Linked DNA regions of Homo sapiens. The protein of the gene in region 3 interacts with the protein of the main gene of each other region in a pairwise test. Each region holds a gene or a part of one and is shown on either strand. Other genes may lie near its edges. The genes, in order: PELI2, SSTR3, MPDZ and PLEKHA1.

The links.
Region 1: the proteins of MPDZ (region 3) and PELI2 interact in a two-hybrid assay, tested with the Homo sapiens proteins (one study listed by BioGRID).
Region 2: the proteins of MPDZ (region 3) and SSTR3 interact in binary tests that used the Homo sapiens proteins (3 or more experiments, as listed by UniProt).
Region 4: the proteins of MPDZ (region 3) and PLEKHA1 interact in binary tests that used the Homo sapiens proteins (3 or more experiments, as listed by UniProt).

The regions. Positions count from the first base shown.
Region 1 is NC_000014.9:56,121,411-56,128,433, forward strand, and holds part of PELI2 (E3 ubiquitin-protein ligase pellino homolog 2), read left to right. Parts: intron 1-7,023. UniProt on the Homo sapiens protein: E3 ubiquitin ligase catalyzing the covalent attachment of ubiquitin moieties onto substrate proteins. Involved in the TLR and IL-1 signaling pathways via interaction with the complex containing IRAK kinases and TRAF6.
Region 2 is NC_000022.11:37,209,470-37,216,870, forward strand, and holds the start of SSTR3 (somatostatin receptor type 3), read right to left. Parts: upstream 3,009-7,401; 5' UTR 2,356-3,008; intron 1,221-2,355; exon of another isoform or gene 1,076-1,220; intron 1-1,075.
Region 3 is NC_000009.12:13,269,674-13,276,696, forward strand, and holds part of MPDZ (multiple PDZ domain protein), read right to left. Parts: exon of another isoform or gene 6,901-7,023; intron 1-6,900. UniProt on the Homo sapiens protein: Member of the NMDAR signaling complex that may play a role in control of AMPAR potentiation and synaptic plasticity in excitatory synapses. Promotes clustering of HT2RC at the cell surface.
Region 4 is NC_000010.11:122,369,876-122,377,726, reverse strand, and holds the start of PLEKHA1 (pleckstrin homology domain-containing family A member 1), read right to left. Parts: upstream 3,020-7,851; 5' UTR 2,921-3,019; exon of another isoform or gene 2,766-2,920; intron 2,387-2,765; exon of another isoform or gene 2,168-2,386; intron 2,150-2,167; exon of another isoform or gene 1,626-2,149; intron 1-1,625. UniProt on the Homo sapiens protein: Binds specifically to phosphatidylinositol 3,4-diphosphate (PtdIns3,4P2), but not to other phosphoinositides. May recruit other proteins to the plasma membrane.

The DNA.
Region 1 (7,023 bases), on a different chromosome or scaffold from region 3:
CACATAGCTAGGATTTTAGTGAGCTCATCACTTTCTGGGCTGATTAGTGGAATTTAATTATTTCATGATTCCAGCCAGTTAATGTATCATAGCCACAACTCTTTGTTGTGTCCACTACTTAACTGAAGGTAGAGAAAAATGACTGGTCTAACCAGCAGGTCTTTTTGCTATAATTTTAAACTTACGTTTTAAGGTTAGGGAAGTGGCTCAGGATTTGAGAGGCAGTTTGGTATAGTGGGAAGAACATGCATTTACAGGTGGGTGACCTGAATAAGCCCTTCTCTCTTGCTGACTGGCTCTGTGACTTTGGCTTAATTCCTCCTCCTCCTCTCTGTTTCTTTATCAATTTGCAAAATATGATTGGATTAGGTAGGCTTCAAGAGCCCTTCCTGGTCTGTGCTCAGTAATTCTGTTCATTGGCGCAAATGTAGAAACTATTTAGTTACATATTCTAAGTTCCCTGACAGTTGTTTTAATAGCAGAAAAGATCAATGCTGTGGTTGTTTTTTATGAAGATGTGCGTAAAAACAGAATGTTTAAAAAAGTTGTAATGATATACATCTGTTTGACTCATTGGTGTTAGGTTACCCATGGGAGCATTTAAATTGTGTAAAACTTTATGTTCCAAGTTTAAGAAAGACAGTGATGTTTTGAAATTTAGCTAAATAGACTGAAATAACCAGCATAAAGAGGAGATGATCTCATGATAAAAATTTAGAACTGAATAGCATTAGGGGAAATTCCTAATGTAGATGATGGGTTGATGGGTGCAGCAAACCACTATGGCACGTATGTACCTATGTAACAAACCTGCACATTCTGCACATGTATTCCAGCCTTAAAGTATAATAAAAAAAAATTAGGACTGGAAGGGGGCCTAATGGTCATGGTATATGTTTAGCCCTTATATTTTATTCTTGAGGACACAGGCTCCCAGAACAAGAGAGGTTCAAGTTCATAGTTGATCTGGGCTGAGCTGGGTGGCTGTACTCCCCTACTCTACCCTTTCCTCACTTTAAGACAGATTCCAGCAGCGCTGTCAGTTCCTCAAAGCATCCTTTCTGGATTCAATTTGAAGCATGTGGCTCTCTTGCTGACTAATGGCCCATGGTGGTTTTTGGAAAAATATTGCTTACTCTCTTAGTTCCTCTCACCTCACAGTTGAATGGATAATGCATTTTGCAAGACTTTTTTTTTTTCTTTTGATGCTTCACAAAATGTATTTTTATTGGCTCTCTCAACCAAGGGTTCTTAACCTAGGGTCCACAGATGGAGTTCGGGACATTCTTGAACTTAGATGGGGGAAAAACATGTCTTGATTTTCATGATATTCAAACTGCAGTTTAGCATTTTCATTCACTTATGAGTGTAGGCAACAAAAAGACTTGCTGCTAGATTTTGTTATTTAATGCATTATTACAGAAGTGCACATGTGTATAGCAATTTAAGACTTTTGATATTTAAGTATAAGTGATTCCAATTGTAATCCTTTGTATTTTATTTTGTATGTTTAAAAACATTAGTCTGAGAAGGGCTCATTACATGTCATCAAACTGCCAAAGGGATTCTTGGCACAAAAAGAGGGTAAGAACCTCTACAAATGAAAATTTATAAATATGACTAAATATGACTGAAAAATGAAGTATTTTAGTAGAAATTGATAAGCTCTACAAAAGGAGGTAGATACCTGCCTCATTTCCTTTGGATGATTCAGTGTTTTGTTAGGTAAGACAAAGAGGGGTATAGTAGCTTGTAGAGTTTATGGTCTTTTTTTTTTTTTTAAAAGCAGGTCCCACTTTCTGTATGCTTTTTGTTGTTGCTGTAACCTCAGCACTTTGCCTTGACTACTCCACCCTTTGGTGGCAATAAGAAACCTTCAAATATACCCTAACACTTTTCCTTTTCTCATCCTCCACTCTAATTTGGGCCCAAAGACATCAAACATTAGTATCTTTTATAGACTAAAAGGTCTTTGAACTTTAAAAAAATTTATAAAACAAAATCTTTACTGTAGCTCAGCATGTGGGGTGATCTGAAGAGCTCAGATCTGTTTGTGTGGATGGAGTGTCTAATTCTGTGGGCTATTAAGGGTTACGGTGTTACTGGCTTTGAGTTGCTATATTTTCCTTTACTAACTTTAGCCTTGTTTGGAATATGTGGCTGTCTGTGTTGCTGTGTGGTTTCTGGTCTGGCTTTCTCAGATTTATTTATTTCTCTCTTTAACACACCAAGACTGAAAGCTTCATTAGGTCTTTTCATTTCTGGTTGTGTTTCATCCTGTGATCAATATTTGGGGATGCTGTGTATAAATGAAAGTAAAACAGGCTTGATTCAGGTTCAGTAATTTTACCAAACATTTTATCGAAAAGATAAAATACTTATGCACAAAGGACCAAAACAAAACAAAATAGCCGTTGCTATATTTGAGGAAGACCAATATTGTCACATTGGAGCACTGGTTTTATATCTGCTGTGCAGGGCTTGCAGTGTGGCCTTCCTGAAAGTAGGTATATGGGGTTGTAGGTTGGCTTTTGAATGGAGACAACAGCAACTTGGTAGACCTCATTGGTATGGGAGAAAAATAACTGTGAAAAGGAATTTATAATGTCTTTTGATTTAATTAAACGTTTCTCCTGGGGTGTGCAGAAATCTATTTTATAAAAAGAAAAGTAAAGGTTAGAATAATTCAGTTATTAGTTCTTACTGAGCTTATTGTCACCTTCATCTTCTGGAAAATAAAATAATAAGAGCAGAAAGTGCTTCATATTTCTTAGCTTTGTCTAAATCACCTGTTCTCAACCACTGTCTCAAGTACCTCATATGTGATGATCAGTCTTGAGGGTATGTGGCCAGTAATTTATGACAAGTAATAAAGTGTGGATCTTTCAAATGATTCAGATATGTCATGTTAATAATGTCATTTTTCACCCTTTTGCATTCTGATGTGTTTTCTCAAGTGGGAGAGAAAGGGGTGGAGTTACATCAGGCAAGCCAGGAATGTATGCATTCAGCAAATATTTATTGGCTGTCTACTCTTCCAGGCATGAGGAATACAGCTAGGACAAGGCAGACACATTCCTTTTCCTGGTGAACTGCTCTCTTATTTTTGTCCCAGCCTCTTTGTGAATAACCGTTACTGATACATGGTTCATTTATTTATTCCCCAAATATTTGAGCATCTGCCACTTGTCAGATGCTGTGGATTGCACTAAGGGATACGCAGATGAACAAGACAGTCATGGTCCCTGCTGCTGCAGCACTGACAGCCTAGCTGGAAGACCTGAAGGCTGGGATGGTGGATGTGTTAGCAGGGTCCCCTAGCCATGTGCCAGGATGAGATGGGGATGACCACGATGGAGATAAGAGGGAAGGAGTGCTTTCCGAAGAAGGTTTGGAGTATTCTGCAACCTAGAGATGAAAACGTGCAGCTACTTTGAGGAACAGAGAAACACTCTTTATGGCTAGGAAAGAATGATTGAATGAAACATTGTGAGGGATGATGATGGGGGGATATCATGAAGGGCTTATAAGATATTGGAAGGGGTTTGGACTTTACCCTAAGAGCACAGGAGACTGTCTCAGGGTTTTGCTAGTATGAGATGGGAGTGAAGAAAGCCCTCTGCTCTTTGCAGAGTGGAGTTGGAAGGCACAGTGGAGTTGGAAGGAGAAACTGAGGCTGCAGCCCAACAAGGCAGAGAGAGAATGGAGTGTGAGCTAGAGGGCAGCTGTCTTGCTTCTAGTTCCTGGTTCGGGTACCTCCTGAGACCTAGTTTCGTGTGATTGACCATTCATTCAGTGACTCAAGATACTGACTGAGGACCAGCACTGCTCCCAGCCCTGGGCTACACCAGCAAACAAGACAGACAGCTGCCCTTCCTGCCTGCTTGGAGCTTACCTTTTTTTGAGAGAGGTGAGCAAGCAAAGGAGTAGATAAAAAATGGAACTTCAGAGACTGCTGGGAGGAAACTAAAGCAGGATAAGGAGGAAGAGAGTTATTGGGTGGGCAGGGGGGGGGTGAATTGGCAGGGTGAAATGCTAGGGATAAGGTAGTGGGGGATCCTTTTGGACAAAATAATCAGGAAAAGCTTTTCCGAGAAAATAGTCCTGTGTCCTTTGAGAGTCCCCACTTCTTTCGGTTTTTACTTACTTTTTTTTCTGTTTAAGCCACCTTGAGTGGGTTCTGCTCTTTCAATCAGAAGATTCCAAGTATCCCGTTAAGAGGCAACGTATATAAGCAATTTACTGAAGGGAAAAATAGAAGTGTAAACAAATACAAGGGCAGATAGTTAAGTATCCCTGGACAAAAACGTGGTTCTGCCCTCTGTGCTGCTTGCCATGTGCCCAGAGTGGCCATTGAATTCCACCAGAGCGTATTGCCCCTTGAGGGTAGGAACCTTGACTTCCCCCCTCCTTGGAATGCTGGGCTTCCCTTTCTGGTGCATGTTAGGTACTCACTGAGCCTCTTGGAGAAATGGATTTCTGTGGCACACCCTAGTTTGCCACCCCACATGGAGATGTGGCCAGGGCTTAGTGAATGTTTCTGGACTTGGAAGGAGCACTCTGCTTCTGTAGCACAACTGCAGTTTTGTAAACAATCCTACCAACCTTTAGGGCCCAAGTCAAAGTTTCCCTGAGAAACTAAACATGTGCTTTACTGACATCAGATATTCCAGTTTCAACTTTTGTTTGTTTTTCTTTTTGTCAGTCACCTAGCAGTCATGTTGTCACCTGCAGAAAGTCCTGCCTTGAAGGGAAGCAGGCCATCTGTTCTGATTCCACCAGCTGCTCGGAGCTGCATTGCAGTGCGCCACAGTGGCGTTGAAAGGCTGTGGTCATTAATGCCTATTAATGATGGCTGGAAATACTGTGGCATACAAGCCTCTTGGATGACAGACCTAATAAATATGCATCAGGGGGCATTTTCAGCAGCAGGTTTAAGGCTATTGCGAGTCATTCTCGATTGAGGTTTTCTTTCTAGCCATCCGCATAATGCTTCTCACTCTCAAACACTTCACTCTGCTTATCCCTGCTTTTCTGCTCATGCAGAATCTGTTTTTAGGATAAGAAATCATTGTTTCAAGCTTTGTACTTCCATTCTTATTAGTACTGGTTTAACAGAATTTAACCAGAGCGAGCAGTTGTGTGTTTGGCTTCTAGGCTATTGGTATAAAACGGCTGATCGTGATTACCAAGTGCCTCGGAGGACCTCGGTGGCCCCCCTCCTTTCCCATCTTGTGCTTCCTGCTCCATGATTATAGAACACTAATTATAATCAGAACTGGTGATGGGTGAGCAATTAGGCTTTTCTGGACTGATGATTGATTGATGGATTGATTGATTGATTGCGTTGGGGAAAGGCCCTTCCTGCGGAAGGATTGTAGACACAAAGGAGTGTGCTTTCACACCAGATCCCAGAAAATTATGCTGACTAGATCCTTGATGTAGTACATAAGATTACATTATGGTTTGGGTACTTTCATCACATGCTGTGGATAGAATTCAAAATGCAACCTGACAAGACTGATAGGAAATAAATTCATTAAGTTTTTATTGAGTTGTTTTTTGTCTCCTCGGGTTGTTGATCATTCTAGTGAGCACAATTTCAGCCTTTTTGATGAGTTATTCCAAACATTAAGTACTGTACGGTTTGAAAATCTTAGCTAACAAAAGCATTTTTGGAGTGGCTTTATAATTTATAAGTCATCTGCAAGTCTTTTTGCATTTGTTAATCTCCAATATTATCTGAAATTTGTTGAGAGCGTGGCAGTTGAAGAATAGCCTAGCTTACTGAGAACCATGCTTCTGGCAGACTGGAACATAAGCAGCTTTCACCCAGGAGAGCTAATGCATGACACAGATTTTCAAGCTTTTAAAGGTCACCTGACATGAAATAACAGAACTAACAGAGATTCGAGTAGGTGGGGTAATCTATACAAGCATCCTGCAGGTACAGGATGGTGGAAGGACCAGAAGAATGTTTTAACACTGCATTTGGGTGGTTAAAGGACAGGATGAAGAGCTCATTTATATTGGTTGTACCTGTCTGTGACTGTCGGCAGTAAGAAGGTAGTACAGTTCCTGAAATACTTTATGTCTCCTCCACACCATGGAGAACAGTTCTGTGTTGGTGAGAAGCAAGCCAAGGCAGAAGATGGCTCTTGTGTGGTGCAGTTTACAAAAGAGAGACAAAATTTGATAGCAGCCACTGCTGCCAGCCACCTGCACAGCACTCAGGGTTGGGAGAGCTACAGGCCTAGAATCCACTGGTTACTGCCTCCAGATTGAACACTTTGCCATAGAAAGAAAATGAAAACATTCCTCTAGTAGCTAAAGTGAACGTAACTTCTGAAATTTCCCCAGATTCTGTTTGGGGAATTTTAGCATTTTTCATTTCTAATGAGAGGGACTAAAAGATGTGAAATCAAAACTTTTGCATTCAAAATTGATCAACTGAGTGTAAAAGAAATTTAAATAATTGAACTTCCAGATGATGTTAAGTCTGTTGCTTTTATAATTTTGTTGTTTTTAAAGCTTAAAATTACACTAAGAATTTTGAGATGCATGTGTGTATGTATATATTTTATTGCATGTGTGTTCTGCATGGGTATATTAAAAATGGGATTCATTGATCCTGCACATGGACCCCTGAACTTTAAGATGAAGAAAAAAAAATGGGATTGCCTGTACATACTAGGAATTAAGCACTATCTAAACATACACACTAAACACTGATCATTCAGTTTGTGTTAGGTGATGCTGTTGTTGCTGTTTTACGAGGCTGATTTCACTTCAGAGGACTAGGGGTGGTGGAGCCTACATAAGGAAATGCCCCCCAGGGGTACACAGTCTAAGGGCAAGACAGATGACTTAGCAACAAATCATTAATTAGGGTGTAGCGGGATGGTGGGCGAGAGCTCTGGGCATACTATATGCCAGGTTCCGTTAGGTGGTTTACATTATCCTTTCCAGGAGTTCAAATTTATTATCTGGGCAATGAGGCTCCAGCTTAATGACTTGTCCAAG
Region 2 (7,401 bases), on a different chromosome or scaffold from region 3:
CTCCCCAACCCTTCATCAGGTCTCCTGAGCCTGGGACAGCAGCACTAAGGGAGGGGCACCTGGACAGTGGGCTAGAGGATCCTAACAGTGCTGCCAGCTGCTCATCACTGAGCCCTGACTGTGCCAGGTGCCAGGCTAAGCTGGTGAGCTGCAGTATCCTATGATGTCCTACGAGGGAGGCACTACTGTCATCCCCACTGCACAGATGGGGAGCAAACGTGAGGTCACATGTTCTGGTCACAGCTAGGAAGGGGCAAATCTGGAAAGATCTGTAGTGACCACCTCTACGCCCATTCCACAGGCTGGCAAACTGAAGCCAGGCCTGGGAAGGCACCCACCTGAGTGCCCAGCTGGCATCCGCTTTCCCAGTTGCCCCCAGGGCTTTGAGCTATGAGGATCATGGACTCAAAGCCTAATGGACCTTAGAGATCTAAAAATAGAATTTTGAATTCTTAGAACAGGCAGAGAATCTTACAGCCATAGGATTTTAGACTCAGTATCCTTGAATCAGAGAATGTTAGAATTCCAGAATGCTAGAATGAGTCCTTCTTAGACCTGGAATTGTGCAACCTGGAACCTTAGAGTCCTGCCTCCCTGGTAGGGGACCCGCGTCACCATCCACCTTGCTGCCCTGTGCTGTGCACAGATCCTCTTTATAGCATCCCTGCTGGTCAGCCAATCACAAGCCAGGGCTAGATGAGGGAGGGGAGCACCAGGCTCCTGAGAGAAGCAAGGAGCTGGGCAGGCCTAATTTCCAGGCTTCAGGGACATATGCCCCTGGGGTAGCCCGCTGGGGGTAAGCTCTGAGGTTGCCCCACCCCCACGCCTGCCCAGCACATGTCTGTGCACCCACAAGCGCATGCGCTGACACACACATGGTCCTGGCAGGAACACGGCGTGCCTAGCCAGACCCTCCTTTGTACCAGGGCATGCAGTCGCCCCTCCCAGAACCCCTGGCCCCCTCCTGGAAAACCCTGTCTCCACCCTTATCTCAGCCGGTCTTCCCTGTCAAAGTTTGAGGGGCCCAGGCAGCAGAAGCAGGGAAATTACAGCTTTCCACGCACGTAAGCCAGACCTGCAATTGAGGTGCCGTCTTTTCTTTAGAGCTGGAATCCTGTGCATGATCTAGTTCATCCTTGAGAAGGAGGGACTTTTCCTCCCTGTCTGGTTTATCTTTGGCACAAGCTTGCCTGAAAGCTGGGGGCGGACTCCTTGGAGGACTGTTCAGGAGGAGACAGCACAGAGAGGGTGAGTGGCTGTCCTGAGCCGCACAGCCCTAACAGTTCAGGGAGGCCAGGCACCCCAATCATTCTCCATTTGCCCATCTCCCACCCGCTAGAACACTGGCTCTTGAAGGCAGGGGCCCTGAATGATTTATTTCTTAACCCCAGAACCTAGGACATCACCCAGAACAGCCATAAATGTGAACAGCCAAGCCGTTCAACAAGGAGAGCTCCAAGGTGGGACATTGTCCCCGGATGGAAGCCTCAGACTCACATCATGAGATCCTCAAGAAGCCCAAGAGGGAGAGTTTTTAGAGAGGAAGAAGTTGAGGCTCAGAGAGGTTGAGTAAGCTGCAAAGGGTCACCCAGCTGGAGAGTGGGAAGCCAGAATTCGAACCCAGTTCTATCTACTTCTAAACCATCAGTACCTCCTGGCCACACTGGCTCCTCTGAAGGCCTCAGGCTGAGAAGGATCAAAGGCCATGACAGTCCTGAATAGTGCAGGGCGATGGCCCCTGGCTCTCTGCTTGTCCTCTACATGCTTCGGCCTTCCCCCCAAAGACACCTGGCTTATGCTTGCCAGTGCCGACTGACTCACTGGCACCCCAGGCCTGGGGCCTGATCCCAGGAGCACACCCTACAGGCCCAGCGCTGGGGGCTTGGGCTCTGCTGCACAGCGATGATGCCAAATTGCTGTGTGACCTCGGGCAAGTCACTTCTCCCCGCTGCACCTCAGTTTCGTCATATGGAAGACAAGCGGACCCACCTCCCAGGGTTGTTTGCAGAGATTAAACGGAGGCGTGCCAAGCACAGTGCCGGGTATGGAGGGGGAGCTCAGGAGAGCTGCCACGTGAGCTGGGGAAGCCAACGACATGATACATCTGGCTCCCTCCAGCCCTGACAGCCTGCGATTCTGTGATTCCGAGATCCTAGAATCATGGCACGAGATTCTGAGACTAACGCCCCTGCCCCTGCAGCCGACCGGGAGGTCACAGGAAGGCCTCCCTCCTGCCTCCCTGGGAGTCCCCACCCTCTGCCTCCCCAGCCCCAGCCTCCCAAGTTCATCCTGGGCAGAGGATGGGCTTCCAGGACCCCACCCTTCGGGACATCATCCGGGCCCCAGCCTCCTTACCTGCCCATGGGGTGAGGGCTTCCCTCCTTGCCGCCAGGCTGGTTATCATTCTGCTGTCCCCTCTCCCTGCCCAGTCCCCAGGTGCCCCCAGGGCACTCCTAACTAGGGTCCCCACAAGGCACCCACTTCTAGACCGCTTGCGGGCTCAGGTTCCCTCCCAGGCCCTCGGCCACGGCTGTCCACAGAGCCTCTCCCATCTGGTCTCCGGCCCTGACTTCCCAACCAGAGCCTGGTACGTCACCCCCCATCTCCAGGACACATCCTGGGGGGGCAGGGGCAAGGATAGGGGGGAGAAGCTTCCCAGGGTGAGGAAGAGAAGAGGGGAGCAAGGGACACAGAAGCCAATAGAAATAGAGGGGAAAGGGGGTCGGGAGGAGGTGGAGAAAGAGAGAGAGAGAGAAAGAGGGAGGGGGAGAGAGAGAGAGGGAGAGGGAGAGGAGACCGTGAGTAGGAGGAAAGGCAGAATGAGGGGGAGTGATGAGAGATGCGTGACAGGGAGAAGACGAGAAGGAAAGAGAGGAGAGGAGACACGGGTGAGAGGGAGAGATGCAGAGAGAGGCAGGAGGGAGGAAGGAGAATGAGGGGGTGGCAGGGAGAGTGACAGAGAGGGACTGTGCCACAGATGGTGACATGGAGCCCGTGAAGGAGGGAGTAAGCAGGGAGGGGCTGAGGGCCGGAGAGCAGGTGTGGGGGGTGGGGGCGGGGTGCAGGTTAAGGGAGGAGGCCCGGAGAGGGAGCAGGAGGGGCGCAGACCCTGTTACCGGGGAGATTTCAGCCACCCACGCCCGCTGGCCTTGGCTCCTGCAGGGAGTTGGAGAGAAGAATGTGCTCAGTGCTCAGGGGAGCCGAGGCTGCCAGCCAGTAGCCAGAGCAGCTCGTGAGGCCACTGCGGCACAGGTCCCCCGGGGCAGCAGCTGTGTCCCAAGGCAAGGCTGGGTGTGGGGCTGGCCAGCCCGGGAGTCCACAGTCCAGCCCTGCAGTCGGGCACACCGGCCGCAGCACGGACCACTGGGGAGGCCGGGTGGGGGTCATTAGTCCTGGGATTGGTTACATCTGGAGAGCCCCAGGCAGGGTGAGGAGTGGAAGGACAGAACAGAGAACCAATATTTTAGGCTTTGAGGGCAAAATCATTGTGCAGTGAGAAAACAGATTTTTACTATTTTGTAACTGACAAAACTCAAAATAGAATAATAATAATTGAGGCCAGTATTTTGTAATGTAGGTCCACTCATGAGAAGAATAGAGTTCTTTTTACAGACATCACCTTTTGCTTAATTGGAGTTTAGAGTTAGTGTTTCATCAAACCGATTGCAAATGTTCATCCGTAAAAACCATTCTCAGCTCCTAGGCTGTACAAAAACAGGCAGTGGGTGGGATTTGCCCCGTGGGCCATATTTACTGATCTTTGGTCTAAGAGACTCTGCCGTACAGTCCTGAGCACAGGCCCAGATGTCTTGGGATGCCGTGCCCCTGCCTGTGCTGATTCCTGCCTCAGCACAGGAGTGATAAGGAAAGGAACAGTCAGAGACGGAAGGGAAAAGGACACACGTCTTGGCTGAGCACCTACTATGTGCCAGGCTGTACCTAGGCTGCTTTCCAAACTGGGCCATTCCCTGGGACCAGGGCTGGACCTCCTTTGTCACTAGGTACCTGGCACTGCAGAGAACTGGAAGTTGAATGCATCCAGAGGTGCCACCATGCATGCGGCAGCACACAGTAGGACACACCCACTTCCAGCCGGAGCCGGCCTGGTCTCTTAACGCTGCCCGTCCCTTTGCCTTGTGCCCGGGACAAGGCCCTTGCTCCAGGTCTCAGCCTCCCATTGTCCTTGTCCGTACAAGTTCATGAGGTGTGGGTGGGCTCCTGGGAGCGTGTCCTCAGGGTCAAGGGTGGGTTTTCCATGGCACTGACCACCCACCCCTACCCACGGCTTCTCACTGCCCTCAGAATAAAGCTCTCTCGCCGCAGCCCACCTGGCACTGCATCCTTGATTCCTGCCGCCTGCGCGGGCCTCCTCCTCTGCTGATTTCACTCGCTCCTCTGTGCCCCAGGCGTACCCAGCCTCATGTATTCATTCACTTATTCCTGCAGGTTGGGGTATAGGGGCTGAAGACTGGACAGGGGAGTTTGAGCCCCAGCTCTACCCCTGCCGTGCACTGAACTTAAACTTCGGTTTTCTCCTTCAGTAGATTGTACACACCTGACTGCCTGGCCTGGGGGTTCTTGCGAAGGTTAAAGGAGTGAATGCTCATCAGTGTGCCCCCTGCCACACACCTCCCCAGCACCGAGCCTTACTGCTCCAGCCTGGAACCCGTCCACTGCTCTCCATCCACAGGCTCCCGTCTGAGCCAGGCCACTGAAGGGGTTCAGGACACGCCACCCCAGAATACACCACTCTGGCATATTGATTTCTCTGCACTAAAGGCACTTCAGAAACAGCAGGTGCAGAAAGGGGGCTCTGACCTCCCCTTTTCTTCCTGAAAGCAGGAGCTAAAACGCCTTGTGAAAGACGCCCTCCCTATGCCAGGAGGAGGAAAGACATTACCAGATAAGGAGAGTCGAGGCCAAAAGAAATCTGTATGAACAGATCTTTTAATCCTTATCTTCCTAGTTACACAATTGCCATTCTATGTTCAACCTGGTACAAAAGCCTTTATGCCTAGTCACTTCTTTGGGTCTTGGTCATTTGGGCGGGAGGCGGGGGGGCTCCCTTGTACATGTAAATGAAATCTGTATGTTTTTCTCCTGCTGATCTGCCTTATGTCAGTTTAATTCTTCAGCCCAGCCAGAGACCCTAAGACAGTAAAGAAGGGTTTTTCCTCCTCCACCCCACCATCACCTTGTACTCCCCTGCTTCCACCCTCGCCCCCTACTCAGCAGAGAGAGTGAGTCCATTACAAACATAAGTCATCCCAGCTGCCTCCTTGAGAACCTCCTATGGCCACCTGTTCCTCGTCAAATAAAATCCACAGTCCCGACCGCGGCCTAGGGACCCCATGTAACGAGCCTCAGCCTGCGCTTCCGCCACTCGGCCCTCTTCTCGTTCTAAAGCACCAGGGCCTCCATCTGAAACTCACCGGTGCCGCGAGTCCCTAGCAGGCCACTCCGGGTCCCCCTCTTCACCTTCAGCCTGGTTAGGCATCCCCTGCTCTGGCAGCCTTCTCCAGAGCCCTCCCCTTCTCCAACACTCCCTCCTTCAGGATTCCTTATCTGTAATGCAATGATTTTTTAATTTGCTTTTATTTTATCAAAGTACTGTTTGCAAGTAAATTTAGAAACCAGTAGAATAGTCCCCGCTTTATGCCCCTTATGCCTCGGTGCATACATCCCAATACCCTGAGTGGATGCCTGAATCCGTGGATTATAGTGAACCTGTATATATATGCTATTATTTTTTCCTGTATGATGTTTTACATACCCATGGTAATTTTTTTTTTAAAAGAAACAGGGTCTCCCTATGTTGGCCAAGCTAGCCTCAAACTCCAGGCCTCAAGCAATCCTCCCACCTCAGCTTCTCAAAGTACTGGGATTATAGGCATGAGCCACCTCGCCCAGCCTGATAATTTTTTTCTTTTTTTTGAGACGGAGTCTCGCGCTGTTGCCCGGACTGGAATGCAGTGGTGCGATCTTGGCTCACTGCAACCTCCACCTCCCAGGTTCAAGCGATTCTCCTGCCTCAGCCTCCCGAGTAGCAGGGATTACAGGCTGATAACTTTTTTTTAAATAAAAGATCTCACCTATGTATTACTGAACCCAGCCTACTAGTGCAGAGCATATGAACAAAGAGAAAAAGTACCTTCCCAATCAAACATGTCCAGCTGTCCAGATAGTGGTGACATTTTCAGCTTGCTATGGTAATATGATCACAACCTTGATACAACATGAATATGTGTAGCATCTCATGCTCAATTCCTTATAGACCCAGCTTGGTTCTTTCCAATATCTCCTTTTGGAGCTGTACCTGATGTTATTACCAGTTTTCATACAGATCCACTGGGGAATGGGACAATTTTGCTTTTGTTTCTTGTGCAGGAATCACTTGATCCTGAAAGTCTTGTGAGAAGCTGTGGCGAGAAACGGAGTCAACCACACACCACGATGGTGGAGAAAGATAATGTTTAACTTATAAATTAGGCACAGTTAAGAGACGAACAGCAATAATTAATAATACAATATACAATAAAACAATATAACAATATATCATAACAGAAGTTATATGATGGTGACCTCTCTGTCTCTTTTTCTTTCAAAATCTATTAATATTTTTAGACTGTGGTTGACCACAGGTAACTGAAACTGCGCTAAGTGGACTACTGTAGCGCTGAAAAGGTTTGTAACAGCAAAAAACAGCAGTCCTCCCCCATCCCTCCCACCCCCCCATCCCACAGGTAATCCCACCCGCTCGGCAATTGCTCCCTCAGTTAAGCTCTTTCTCGCTAAATATCATATTGATTTTTTTATGTCTTAATCCCTCAATTTTACCCATTATCTACTGACTCCTCTTACAGTACAGGAGAAGTTTACATTTCTTACGCACTCTCACCCCTTCTCCCCATCTTCTCAATATGAGTTTCGGTTAAATGCATATCCAGTGTTCCCATGATTAATGCAATGTAAATATTATTTCCTGCTCAGCCAGGAGTTCATAATTGCTTCGTTTTTTGGTTTTTAAAAATATCTTCGATTTCTTGGACTAAGCATTTCCACACGTTCCTATAGCTTCGTAAAAACCACACAGTGGAGTTTCCAGAGTCCAGCCTCAGGGACGATTTCGTCCTGGAGACTGACGAGCTCCTCTTATCTGGGCCAGCTGCCCCTTGGGCCTGTGCGCAGCTGACATCCCGAGATTCTCTCTCCATTGTTGTTTGGGGATTCCCTTCAGCTTTTTCCTGTATGAATCCAGTTCCTTAGATTCCATGTCTTCCTTTTTGATGTTTTACTCTCTCATTTTATGGGGGCCTTGGGGTTTTTTTGTTTTGTTTTGTTTTGTTTTTGAGACAGGGTCTTGCTCTGTCACCCAAGCTGGAGTGCAGTGGTTCAATCTCG
Region 3 (7,023 bases):
GTACCAAAGAATTCCTAGAGAGAACCCTGTAGTCCTCTGCCAGCAAAGAGATGTTACTGTCTAAATCCGCTGATAAGCTTGTCAGTCATTGGTAGTCCACACTGCTGAGAATACACTAAGAAAATTCAGCAAGAAATGACAATTTACATCTTGCTGGCAAGATTCCAGGTAGTTCAGATAAGGGAAAATTGCATGAAGAAATCCAAATTACTATGAACCTATCTGAACACGTACCTTAGCCATATAAGATAAATAAGCATGCAGCAATTCGATCTCCTAATTACTAATTCACAGATAATGTAACAAGCTACACTATTTAGTTACCATATGTAATTCTATAGGATTCATTGGGGTTATCTTGACAAGTGATATTTTCTCCATGAAAGCATTTTAAAAGGGCTTATTCTTTCAATGAACGTGACTATTTGCTTCTTAATTAACTCATCTACTATTTAAATGCCTCCATTAACTGCTTTTTACTCTGGCACTCAAAAGACTAAACATTAATATTAAGAGCACAAACCAACTTTTACTTTCGTAATAATCCAGAAAGGACATCTGCTTTAAATGTTGTTTTATTTATTTTGTTCGTCACTTCAATTAAGTGATCAGAAGGTACAGACAATATATAAACATTACAAATGACCCAAAAAAGGCTGAGTGGTTCCAGCCAACATAACAGGTTTTCATAACAGAATGAAGACATCTTATTTCTTGATTTCATCTGACCTTATAGCTTAGCTGCATGAGCTAAAGCTGTGTTGACCAACACAGTAGCCAGGAGCCACACTGAAACACACTACTGGGCACTTACACCTTGGCTAGTTCTAAAGGCAATATGATAAAAGACATGGGTAAAAGACATGGCATATTTTGGAGAGCTTTTTTTTTTTTTTAAGAAAGTAAAATATCTCAACAATGTTTACACTGATTATATTTTGAAAGAATAATTTGAAGAAACTGGGTTAAACAAAATATATTATTAAAATTAATTTCACCTACTTCTGCTTTTTTCTTCACTGTGGCTACAGACAACTTAAAATTACATATGTGGCTCACATGATATTTCCATTGGCCAGAGCTGATCTAGAATGATGCAGATCTTCCCCTCTCCAACTCTTGGGGTGTTTGATGATCTGAATTGTAACATATACAGAATGGCAATTATTTGAATAATTTCAGCACCAAATTACTCCTTTGTTATCCAATTCACTATATGACTGTCATATACATTTGTCACAGGAGTGACAGATCTATCAAACATGGTAAGAATTACAGAAAACATGCAAGTGGGTGAGGAATATTTAGCAAGCAGTCAAAATAAAGCATTGGGTTCAATACTGAAACTACTGTGCTGTGCTTAAACTCTTCATACGGTAGGATACAAAAGTTTATGGAAAGCCTCAATAATCTCCTGACTTTTTACTTAATCATCTCCTATCTTTCAAAATTAAATATTTTTAAATCTTTTTTACAATTACCGGTAGTATTTTTTAAACTATTGACTTACATATTTTGTAGCTCCAACATTTAAATAAGGGCCTTTAAATTTTCTATGTTATGTTTATCAAAATGGGGCATGAATTTAAGAAGACTGAGAAACACCATCAAATACAAAAGTCGGACTCACACAGTTGAATCCAAAGGGGATCAGAACATGCCACTCCAAAATATGCTACTTTGGCATCAGTATTATTTTGAACTGAAGGCAAATAGGAAACGGAAGACAGGAGCACTCTCTCCCCTGGCCCTTTCTGTGTAAAAGTAGAACACAAAATTCCCTTTGTAAATGTGACAGAAATGTCCGTTTGTAAAGATGATCATCTCTCCCTTACCAGTGAGAACAACTTTTATCATGAAAATGATGCAAAAACCCCAAATCTATCCTCTTCTTTGGGTCTCTTCTTTTCTGCGTAGCCCCCATGAATATGAAATTAAAAACATCAATTAAATGTTAATCTGTGTTCTGTTAGTTTTAATTCACAGGCCTCACTTATAGAACCTCAAAGAGTAAAATTTTTCCTCCCTCACAAAACCAAGAATGAATACGCACCATAAGACAACGGAAGTGCAGGAGAGTTCTAAATGACTTAAAAACTCTTTAATGGTATATCCATGCAATGACTACTACTCAGCAATGACCAGTACTGAACTATGAATACAGGCAACATGGATGAATCCCAAAATAATCACATAGTGAAAGAAGTCAGACAAAAGAGAACATACTGTATGATTCCATGTATTTAAAGCTCTAGAGAACGCAAACTAATCTACAGTGACATAAAGCAAATGAGTAGTTTACTTGGAGATGGGAGGGGTGGGTAGAGGAAAGGACTACCAAGATGCATGAGGAAACTTTCGGGGGTGATGGATATGTTCACTATCTTGATTGTGGGGGATAGCTTCAAAACAGCCAAAATTCAACAAATTGTACACTCTCAATATGTGTAGTTTATTGTCAATTATGACTTATACCACAATAAAACAGTTAAACAATTATAACTTATACCACAATAAAACAGTTAAACACTCCCTCCCACCTCCTTGAGAAAAGGATAGGGGCTGAATAGGTTGACTTTAGCATCCAACAGATGTTCACTGAACATCTTAATGAAGCTAGCTAGGGAGCAATAACCCAGGCCCCAGGGCTATTTCTTCTCATTTTCCTCCCTCAGCCAAAGAGCTAAAAATACTTTGTGACTTAGTCTAACCCGATATATATTCAATAGATTAAATCAGAATGAAGAGCCATTCCAATGCTATAGTTTTGTAAAACAGCATAGGATAACTGCATTTCCTAGCCCAGAAAACTGTGAATGTGATGGGAAAGGGTTGGAAGGGTCAGACAACACTCCACTGAATCATATCGATGAGGCCCCTGTAATCCCAAATTAGAAAATGAGGCCGAGCGTGGTGGCTCACTCCTGTAATCCCAACACTTTTGGAGGCTGAGGCGGGGAGATCACCTGACCTGAGGTCAGGCGTTCAAGACCAGCCAGGCTAACATGGTGAAACTCTGTTCCTACTAAAAAAAAAAAAAAAAAAAAAGAAGAACAAAAGAAAATGAATGCTGTCCAGAAGTGGATTCAGGCCTGACTTATTAAAATGCAATACCCTGGGACACTTGTGGGGAGTGAGAAGCCGAGGAGGAAATACATAAGCTTTATGAAATTTACCCAGTAATGCCTTAGACAAAGCAAGACCTATTAAGGGGGCTGCTATGGTCTGAATGTTTATATTCCCCCCAAATTCATATGTTGACATCCTAACCCCCAAAGTAATGGTATTAGGGGGTGGGGTCTTTGGGAGGCAATTAGATCACAAGGGCAGAGTTCTAATGAATGGGATTAGTGCCCTTATAAAATAGGTACCAGAGAGCAGCCTTGCCCCTTCCATACCATATGAAGACACAGCAACACGGCATCATCTATGAGGCCCTCACCATTCACAGAATCTGCCAGTGCCTTGATCTGGTACTTCCCAGCCTCCAGAACTATGAGAAATAAATGTATGTTTATAAGGGACCCAGTGTTTGATATTTTGTTATAGCACCCGAAATGAACTAAAACAGGGGCCTAGCAAGGTATAAGAGAAACTGGACATATCTTAAATATATCGGAAAGGAGTTTTTAAATTGTAGAATAATCTTTAATCTTTATGACTCTATCATCATGGTTTTGTTACGTTAGTGATATCTTATGAACACAGAAGGATAGCTTCTCATGACCATTTTCTATGACAGTTCCCTGAAGCAAGGTATCCTATGGAGCCACCTGAGTACACAATATAAAGTTACTGTGAAATTAACAATATAGTGAATTGGTTAACAAAGGAGTAATTTGGTGCTGAAATTATTCAAATAATTGCCATTCTGTATATGTTACAATTCAGATTATCAAACACACCAAGAGTTGGAGAGGGGATGATCTGCATCATTCTAGATCAGCTCTGGCCAATGGAAATATCATGTGAGCCACATATGTAATTTTGTCTGTAGCCACAGTAAAGAAAAAAGCAGAAGTAGGTGAAATTAATTTTAATAATATATTTTATTTAACCCACTTTCTTCAAATTATTATTTCAACATATAATCAGTATAAACATTGACTATTAACACTTAATTTTAAGCAGAAATCAAAATTTTTTAAAATACGTTCTCCACTGGTATCCTACATGCCACGTGGTAGTGAACTGTATCATATCTCTTCAAAAGACCTGAGACATCAGTTCAAACAAATGCTATTAGTATCAACTCAAATTATATAACATTTAATAATCTCAGATCAGATGATGCTCATTTAGAAAGGCAGCAATTGGTGAAATCTATTGATCAACAGCTGCTCTATCCATTTGTTATATCAAAATAACTTAAATATCTTCATTTTCAAAATATGTGTCTTGGGGATTTTCTTGTGGGAGTGGTATCTGGGTGATCTAATTACAGGCAAGCTTTCCGTCTTCTTTTCACTTGTATCTTCCATACCTTTTAAAATGTGCTATTTACTAAAATAAATAATTACCTTATGTATTTTATTATCAAAATAATTTTAAAACATAAGCAACAACATTAAGTTTTTTCTTAATTTTTTTTTTTGGTAGTTGATGTTACTGGGTTTTTTTTCTTCTTTTTTAATAAATGTTTCATTTTTCACTTTCCCCTCATGCACTTATTTATAGCACCTTGGATCTGGAGGCAGAGTGGTTTACAAGAAAATAACAATGAATGTTGCTTTTGCAGACACAAATAAAACTAAAAAGTGGATAAAGATAAGAATTCCCTAAACAAAACAAATTTAACCACCACAGGCAGACAGGCCAGAAGAAAAAAAGTAAGAGTTTGTCTCCTTTTATTTATTTATTTATTTTTAACTTAGCTGGCCAGATTGGGAAGAATGGCTCTAATGGTTTCATTAACTCAACAAATAAAATTGCAACACCTAAAAAACAAAAAAAAAAAAAAGTTTTTATTTTATGTAACATAAATTCCCTTTTATTAATCATATTTTCCCAAAAGGGGGAAACATTTCTGAAGGAAAAAAGATTATGCCATACATTACCCCACAAAACACGTATAAGACAGACAGTTTTTAGATCAATGGAATTTAAAGAATAAATTCTGTTGTTTTAATCAGACTCAAAAACCACTGAGACATTTACAACACAGTGTTTCAGCTTTGCCAAATTTAGCGCTTTACTATTTTTAAGAACCATTAAAAGAAATATTTTAAGAAAACGAATGCTTTTATAAAACACTTAAAAAAAAAATTAATGCTCTGTCCACAAAAAGGCCACAGAGGCACAATTTCCCAATGAACATCCAGAGAAAGAAAATAAGTGGCCTCAGGCCAAAGATAAAATACCTTTGTCCTCAAATAGCAGCTTCCCTTTCTTGCCAAACATCAAATTACCCCAGTAATGCTCAGACTATGCACTAGCCTCCAATACGAGCTCACTGCCTCAGAGTCTCACTAGTTTACACACTAAGTCTCTTTGAGAACCTTGTTATGAGCTAAACTGTGTCTCCTAAAAATTCACAGGAAATCCTAATCCCTGTACCTCACAATATAACTGTATTTGGAGATAAAGGTTAAATGAGGTCACTAGGGGTGGGCTCTAACACAATATGACTGGTTCCCTTATAAAAAATTAGGCTATAGACATACACAGAGGGAGGGCATGTGAAGAAACAGGGAGAACTCAGCCATCTACAAGCCAAAGAGCGAGGCTTGGTAGAAACCAATCCCACCAACACTTTGATTTTAGACTTCCAGCCTCCAGAACTGTGAGGAAATAAATTCCTGTGGTTTCAGCCACCCACTCTGTGTTATTTTGTCAAGGCAGCCCTATCAAACTAATACAGATTTTGGTACCAGGAAATGGGGTGCTGCTGTAACAAACACCAAAAATGTGGAAGTGGCTTTGGAACTGGGTAATAGGTAATGGCTACAAACGTTTTAGGGTGCATGTTAGAAAAAGCCCAGATTGCACTGAAGAGGTTAACTCTCAGAAGGAAATGTGACTTGGGTTATTGGAAAGTGGAAACTTCAAGAGATAAAAGTCAGCCTATACTTCATTGCTCTCCATTAATTGCTCTTCCCTATCCAACCTTTTCCCCTGGGCACAAATCCTCTATTCCACTCCAGAAATATACAAATTGAATATGCTCTCCAGTACCCACTGCCCACTCACATCCCAGCCTCTTCTATACATGTCCATTTTCAAGGGAAAACCACTGACTTAAGCTCTACTTCATATCAAAAAAACTTTCATTTCCACCCTCTCATCTCAAGACCAAAGCCTTTCTGTGTCTTATTTACTAACCTCAATGATAAGAGCAACTAATCCCTATACTTCACTACTTTCCTAGAATCCCTGTAACATTTTTAACATGTAAAACCTTTCTGTTATTTCTCCCATTAGATTCCTCCAACTAAGACCCTACACTTCTGGAGCAGAATCATGTTTATTCTGTACTCTCCCCAATGCCTAACCCAATACAACATTCTTCCTAATCCATCTATTACTACCTACTACATGAATACCTCGGATCTTCTCTGGAAACGTATCACAGGAAGGCAATGGATTCCTCACCACTGGTTTCCTTTATCGAGAAGTAGTTATTTACCTCCTTAGTCTTATTCTCCCACATGGAATCCCACTAAAATTATTTAATCACAGTATATCAATTTTACCATGCTAAATATCATTTCCGAACTGTACTTATATAAATGCTCTCCTATGCATGACACTAATTTACAAGAAAAAATGAAACCTTTATTGTTATAAATATGGGGTTGATAATGTACGTAACAATATCAAATGAAATCCTACTTTAGGCCAAATATCTATTTTCAAAAGTACATACAACTGTTTTGGACATATATCATCACTCATACGCACCATCAAGCAGTCCTAAATTCACCAGGAAGTTGTCTGCTTCTTCTCTTTAAAGTGTAGGATCTTTCTCTGGCAGATGTGCTATTTGCTCTACCATATTTGGGGACATTCCAGTCCAACTTTGCC
Region 4 (7,851 bases), on a different chromosome or scaffold from region 3:
GTTACTTAGGGTCAAATGGTTTAATATTGCTCAGTAAGTGTAAGAGAGTTCTAGTGCTATAACAAATAACAGGATGCTTTATGTTTACATAAAAACATCCCATATTTTTATGTTTCTAAAAATAATTAAGCATTATAAACAATCATCTAAAGCTACCAAGTTTTCTGCCCTTTCTGAAAGCATTCCTTTCAGACACCATGTCAATAAATTCTTAAATGCTGGATGTGTACTCACAAATGGTCAAAAAACCTAAAACCAAATCTTAATATTTAACTCCTATTGAAGTCATTTTATTGTATCATTGCAGATCTAAAACAAGATTTTTTAATCTTGAAATTTAAATTTTAATATTAACAAAAGTAAACTGCTCCAGCATGAGAAAAGTAATTATTTGCATATTACCTCAGCTCACAGTTGGAATCAAATAGGAAATACTTTAAGGCAGTTAGTTATATCAACCCAAAATTTTCTAATAAAAGCAATGTTACTATTGTCACAAATAATTACTACACTATATTCAGAAAACTATCTTCCCCATTCTCAAATAAGTTATTTAAACAATAATGACTTGACATCAAGCAATATGTCAATGTCAAAGTATGACTTAAATTATATTAATAAACTATTTATTAGATTTCATTCTGGGTTACAAATTATCACACAATTAAAATAACTTCGGGATTTGCAGCATGACTAATAATAATAAAGAACTTCCAGGCTTAAGTCAAAAAGCCACTTTGTTTAAATCTCCATTAAATGTTTTTTGTGGGGGGAAGTCCCCATAAAAATGTAAAATGTTTCCACCTTTCCCAAGTATCTTCCTAGGAGTGGTCAATATTGTCATATCCTATATGTTAGCAAACGATACTTGAATGACTTTTAAAGAAAAGAATCCAATGCTATTCTTAACATCCTTAAACACTTCTAAAAAGGTCCTTCCGGCTTATGAACTCATGGCAGTTTCCTCACAATTGTATACTTATCCTGTTTCACTGTCTCTCCTAGTCTATGACAAACTCAATTTTACACACCATCTTTCCTATTTTGTTACACTGCTAAAACTGGGGAGAAAAAAAGATACAAACCTGCTACTTTCCCCCCTCCCAAAGCGACAATGAAAATACTAATTAACAAGATAAAGATTGGAAGCTCTGCGCGCGCCCGCGCGGTGTGTATACACATATATTTATATTATATATATATATATATATATATATATATATATCTTCTTAATGTCACTAAATTCACAGCCATATATCTTGATACAGGTATACGCTACAAGAGAAAACTGTCAGTAGATACAGTGTAAGGTTTACGGCAGTATAAAATAAATTAACTACTTTATTAATTCAAATTCTGTCAAACTTAAATACTCTTTTTTAAATGTATCAGTACTCTAAAATGCAATTTTCCTTGGGAAAATTGGCCAAGATAAAAAATACTTTAACTCCACTAGGGGAAATATTTCTTTTGCCACAAGTGTGTCAACAGGAAAAATTAAGAGCATGAAAAGTAAACAGGTATTTTGATCAGAATAAATCTTATTATTTTAATATAACGGGTCTTCAAGTTCTTCAGATTGTGAAGAAAAACACAGTTTCACAAAACAATCACATAACTCTTACCCAAACTTTGCTGTAAATGGTTTCAGTGGCATCAAATTAACATAGAAAGTATGCAAGCTGAGTACTTGGGAAAATAAAGCAGATTGATCAGGAGTTCTAAGATGAAAGACAATGGTGTAAACCTCATAGTGCACTATTTGTTCCAGTCATTAAACACACAGGAAATAAGATTTTCTATTTAGAAAACTAACTCACAAGGGGCAATGACTTCATTAAAACAAAGAAAATCTTATTAAAACAACGATCAATTGTAAAATAAGAAAACCAGTACTGCAGAATTGGAAGGTGAAACAAACAGACGAGGAAAACGCAGAAACTGCCTGGATATTTATTTGTTCCTTGAACCTCTTCTTGTACTGCCCCCAGAGAGCAAAGGAGTTTCATTATTTATACGCCCAGACCACGGTAGATGCTCTGCGCGGGGGCACAGCCTCACCAGAATTCTACCAAAGGCGGTAAACACTATAAGCAACAGGACCGCTTTCATTATGACACACTTTCCCCTCTTTCCAGGAGGTCAATAGAAAGCATCTGAAACAAACCACAAACCACTCAAGACGGCCCCAAAGCTCTGCGGTTGGCAGCTGGCCTCGGCGTCGAAAGACCTGGGTCTGGTCGCCTCCCCGGTGCCACCTGCGTGACCTTGGGCAAGTCGCTTTCAACGCTGCCTCTGGCCACCTGCCCCGAAGGTGCGGAGGTAAATCGCGGACACCGCCCGACTTCAGGGCCCAGGGCGGAGCCGGCTTCGGCCTCGGCAAGTCCTGAAGCCAAAATGCATTAAACACCAGGAAAGGATGCCCGGGGACGCGCGCCCCGCGGGCACAGCCCTGGAGGGAGGCGCTCCGACCGGCGCCACCGGGAATCCCCGGGCAGCTGCGCGCACCGCGCCCCGAGCGGGATTTCTCGGGGGGCGGAGACGCCGAGGAGCTCGTCGGCCCCGCGACCGCCGCGGGCCTCCCGCCCTCCCCCGCCGGGCGCCGCTGAGGGCTGACGTCGGGAAAACAATCGGGGACCCACGGGAAGAAGACGCCGCCCCCTCCCGCTGCCCCAAGCCAGGGCAGGTGAGCCGGCCCGGCGGCCTCCAGGTGCTGTGGCGCGTGGCGCGGACGTGCGCAGAGGGGGCGCCGGCTCCGCACTCACCAGCACCCACCGCCCCTCTGCGGACGCCTCCCCGCTCGCCACAGCGGGAACCGCGCTCCAGCAGCCCGGCAGCCCCGCAGCCGCCGCCACCTCGCGCCTGGCCCCGTCCACCACCCCTGCTCCAGCGCGGCCGCGTTCTTCAAGCTAAACTTTACCGCGGCCTCGGCCCGGAGCACCCGCGCCGCCGCGGCCCCGGCTCCCACAGAGGCTCGGCTGCCCGGAGCGGCGTCCGCGACGGCCAGCCCGCGCACTGCGCACGCGTCCCCACGCTGCCTCAGCCCTCAGACGGCGGCTGAGATTCCGGAGCGGGCGCTCCCAGCCCGCAGAGACTACGAGTCCCGGCAGGCCCCGCGCGGGTCCCTGCGGCGTGGCGGGCCGAGTTTCTGGCGTCTTCCTGGTTCCAGCGGCGGCGGCCTCGGCGCGCCGGGGAGGCCTGCGCGCGGAGCTCTGGGCCGCCGCGCCGCGGTGCTTCCTGGTATTCGTAGTTTTTGACCACCACTGGGCTTGGCTCGGAGGTAGAACTCCGGGTTCTCTGATGTCATCGCCTAGAGCTGCGAGGAACAGGGATCTTTAAAAATAGGCTTCGTTAGTTTGCAGATAATTTGTTTGCAAGCTGTCCCATAATCGGTCCAAGTGTCACAAATTTACAGGCTGCGGTGTGACCTGGAGAAAAACGCTTTACAGCTCTGCGCGCCAATTTTTCGCTCTTCTCTCTCCCTGCAAATGTAGCTCCACTGCCTACTTACAATGGTGTTAATAGTACAGGAGGGTAAGAGAGACTTAAAGAAGGGTTAGTCGAAATTCTTTCAGCAACGGTGGAGCATAAATATGTATTCTGGTAAATATTCGTTGAGTGTTTAGCAATTTCTCGAGCACTTAACTGTGTGCCAAGTACGCGATAGGCAACCCGGCATTCATCTGAGAAAGAGACACTGTCACTGCCCTTATGGAGCCTGCAGCTTGGGGGAAACTCGTCCGCAAACTAGCAAAATCGTTCCAGATTTTAATAGAATGGCCAGACTGAGAAAGTTCAAGAGACAGTAGCGGTGGCGGGGACGGGGGGAGGCTCTTCAGAGAGAGTGGCAAGGCAAGTTCTCTGAGGATGTGATATCTGAGCTGAAACCTGAAGAATGAGAAATATTCAGACAGGCAAAGAACTGGGAAAGAATTACATGCCACGCCTTTCACAGCGCATGCCACTCTAGGCTCTTAATAAATATTTGTTCTTTTTGTGTGCTTCTTCCTTTCCTCTCCTTGCACAACCTTAGATCACATCCTATCCCCTTCAAACCCTTTAAAAAATCTTTATCAACATCTTTTAGAATATCCTTCCTATGTGAAAATGTACATGAAACAAATGTCCAGTGGTAAGACAAGCTGTACAGCTGCTAGGACAGAAGACACAACCCTGGTGACAGGCTGGAATCTATCTACTTTGCCACTTTCTTTATTTGCGAACTGGGTTAGAAGTCTGGGGGCTCAGCCTGGCCTCCTGACTTGTTTCTCTTCATGGGGCATCATACAGGATTTTGAGTTTGTCTTTATTAAAATCTTAGAGGAAGCCTACCTGTTATCTGAATCAGAGGTGTAGTGAAGAACAGCCCTAGATTTTCCTGTGTAGACTTACCTATGTGACTTTATGCAGAGAGTGACACTTTGCCCTTCTGACCCTCAGTGACCTCGACTGTAAATGAGTGTCATCCACCCTGCCTGCCTTGCAGAATGTTCTCAGAGTCTGATAAATTGATGGAGGTGAAAACATCTTGCAAACTGCATAGAACGGCTCTCTGACTGCCTCTTTGAGACTTAGCATTTTCAATTGCCTTTCATCCAACGTGATATTTTGGTTATCTTTTGAGAAACCTTAGCTATGCAGCCTTGCTGACATCTGTCCCTTTTGGGGTCCTCATCTGTATAATGGTTGAAAGGGTTTGGCCTCACTATAGTTTATAAAGTAGCCAGAGCAGATTGTTTCCTTTGGTCCACACAGTGGGTTTTTGTTGATTTAACTGAATGTGTGGTTAACATTTAAAAATAAAAATCTAGGTGTCACCTGTCTTATCCCTGTAGGCATTTGAGTTTGCCTTCCCTGGCTAGAAGGTCTGGAAGGAGTCTCTAGCTTGTCAGTGCTAGAATCCTAGAAGATTCCAGATGGGAAATTTGTTTATTTGAAATTCAAAGTCAAATTCACATCTTTTATTTGATCTGAAAATACTGGTCCTGAGAATAGAACACTTAGGCCAAGAGCCTCTCACCCTCTCCAGGCTGGACCCGCCGGATCTCTCTCCTAAATGTTGTTTGACATCATTGATGAGTGGTTTGAAATTGTTCCTTTGGCCAATGTGATGGCTCCTGCTTGTAATCCCAGCACTTTGGGAGGCCAAGGTGGGCGGATCACTTGAGGTCAGGAGTTTGAGACCAGCCTGGCCAACATGGTGAAACCCCCTCTACTTAGCCAGGCATGGTGGTGGGCACCTGTAGTCCCAGCTACTCGGGAGGCTGAGGCAGGAGAATCAACTGAACCCACGTGATGGAGGTTGCAGTGAGCTGAGATCGTGCCACTCTACTCCAGCCTGGGGGACAGAACGGGACTCAAGAAAAAAAAATTGCTCCTTTGTTCTTTTTGCATAACAAGTCCCCAAAACTGTTTATCATTGAGAGCCATATTTACATACAGTAAAGAAAGCCAGAAAAGTAACTCAGTTTGCCCAAGGACACACAACAAGATAATCCCAGGACTGCTTTGAGGTTGCAGTATAACCAGAACTTCATAGCTCCCGATCAGCCAATAAATACAGAGACAAAAAAAAAAAGCTCTCTGCTTTTCTTCCAGCCTCTTTTTTTTTGGATGCAGAGGTTTATTACATAACAGTGCTTTCAGTGCTATTTAAAAAAAAAATAGTACAGGGAAATTACAGTCTGGGAGCAAACCAAGAACACTCAGGACTCACTGAAGGCACTGAGGAATGCTGGAATATTCCATGGCTACTTTTCATCTGAAGAAAAAGGAGGAGTCTGAATTCAAGGATCTATAGTTTAGCTGTTTACTTTTTTTTTTTTTTCTGCCGGAAGGGACAGAGTCTCGCTCTGTCGCCCAGGCTGGAGTGTGGTGGCACAATCCCAGCTCACTGCAACCGCTGCCTCTGAATTCAAGTGATTCTCCTGCCTCAGCCTCCCAAGTAGCTGGGATTACAGGTGCCTGCCACCATGACAGGCTAATTTTTGTATTTTTAGTAGAGTCAGGGTTTCTCCATGTTGGTCAGGCTGATCTCGAACTCCTGACCTCAAGTGATCTACCCCCCTCCTCAGCCTCCCAAAGTTCTGGGATTACAGGTGTGAGCCACTGCCCCAGCCTGCAGTTTACCTTTAAAGTATCACTGTCATCATTATCATCATGCTTTGCACGTGTGAAGTACGTTGATGTTTCATTCAAAAATAGCTCTTGGGCCCCTTCCATATGCTTAGTGCTGGGCTCTGGGGCTTCCAGACAGACGTCAGCCCCTCTGACAACACAAAAAGCAGCGTACAGAGGCACGCAGAAAGCTCCTGAATGCTAGTCACCTCTCTAATATTTGATGTCTGCAGCATTTCCTGCATTATCTTTTTCCCCTTAGCAATGGTCACTTTTGTACATATTATATATGTGCATATATATTTTTTTTTCTGCATATCCCTCTAAACTGTAACCTCCACGTGGCCAGGGATTTTATGTTTTGTTCCTGCTTGTATCCTTAGTGCCTACAACAGAAGTATGTGTTGAATGATGAATGCCACAGTCCCCTTTATGGACAGAGCCAGCATCAGAAGCCAAGCAGAAGGAGTACCTCCAGAAGCAAACCTCTGTTCTAACCAGAAATCAGAACCAAGATAGAACAAGAATTAAACATGAACTGAACACTCTCTGAACCCGGCTTTGTTCTTTTTGTGTCCCCTCCAGAAACTGGGTAGCAGAGAGTTAAAAACGGCTTTTCCCTATTTTTTAGTGTAAAAATGGCACAAGAACTCCAGGCAGCGAGTCAGTGGAGTTGCTTCTGTGGGTGAAGAGTCGGAGCTGGCTTTCTGACCCTGCCTCACAACTGGCAATGACCAAGTGAGGGGAAGCATGATTCTCAGTAATCACCCCAAGCAGGCACAGATTAAGTGACCTTCCCAGATTACCAATCAGGTGACTGGAGTCTCCTTCTGGAGCTAATTCTTGCATCCCAGGGCTGGGGCAGAACAATCCTCCTTCAGGAAGGTGCCACGAAAGATTGTCCACATTTTATGCTTACCAAGGTGGAAGAATAGGATTTCTGAAAAAGTCAGCAACCAGCCCAAATTCCAGGCCCACACAGGAAAAAAAACAAAAAACAAAAAACAAAAAACTGGGCATCCGGGGAGATGCTTGCCTCCAAGACTTGTAGAGAGCAGAACTAGGTCTTTCCTGCCTTAGGATTATCAGACAAGGAAGGGAGCCCAACACTGAACATCTGGGTTGGACAGGATCTAAAGTTGCTGAAAGCCACTGGAGTTCTAAAGGTCCCCAGCAACCCTATGATCTCTGGGGGTCTGGTGGGTTCCAGCTGCATCTACACCCTAGTTAGGTCATACATTAATTACCCTGACCACATGTGGCAGGCCTGGGATGGTGGTAAACCCTAAAATTGCAGAGCACAGGATGCTTGCTGTCATCCAAACATACGGACTCTTGCTCCAATGTGGTGTGAAAACTTGAAAAACAAGATTTTCTGAATCAAGATGATCATCCAGGGCCACACTTGGGTTGCTAATTGCAGCACTGAAGTAGGGAGCATTCTAGAAGGTGAAGACTCCTTGCAAACAAAGCTGGGAGAGAGGATCTGGGAACAAGTCCATCTTGGGCTTCACAAGCTCCTTGGCCTGGGGGAATTGTACCCTCAGACCCCTTCCCCTTACCAGACAGGGCACAGTGGCTCACGCCTGTAATTCCAGCACTTTGAGAGCGAGATGCAGGCGGATCACAAGGTCAGGAGTTCAAGACCAGCCTGGCCAATATGATGAAACCCCATCTCTACTAAAAATATAAAAATTAGCTGGGTGTGGTGGCGGGCACCTGTAATCCCAGCTA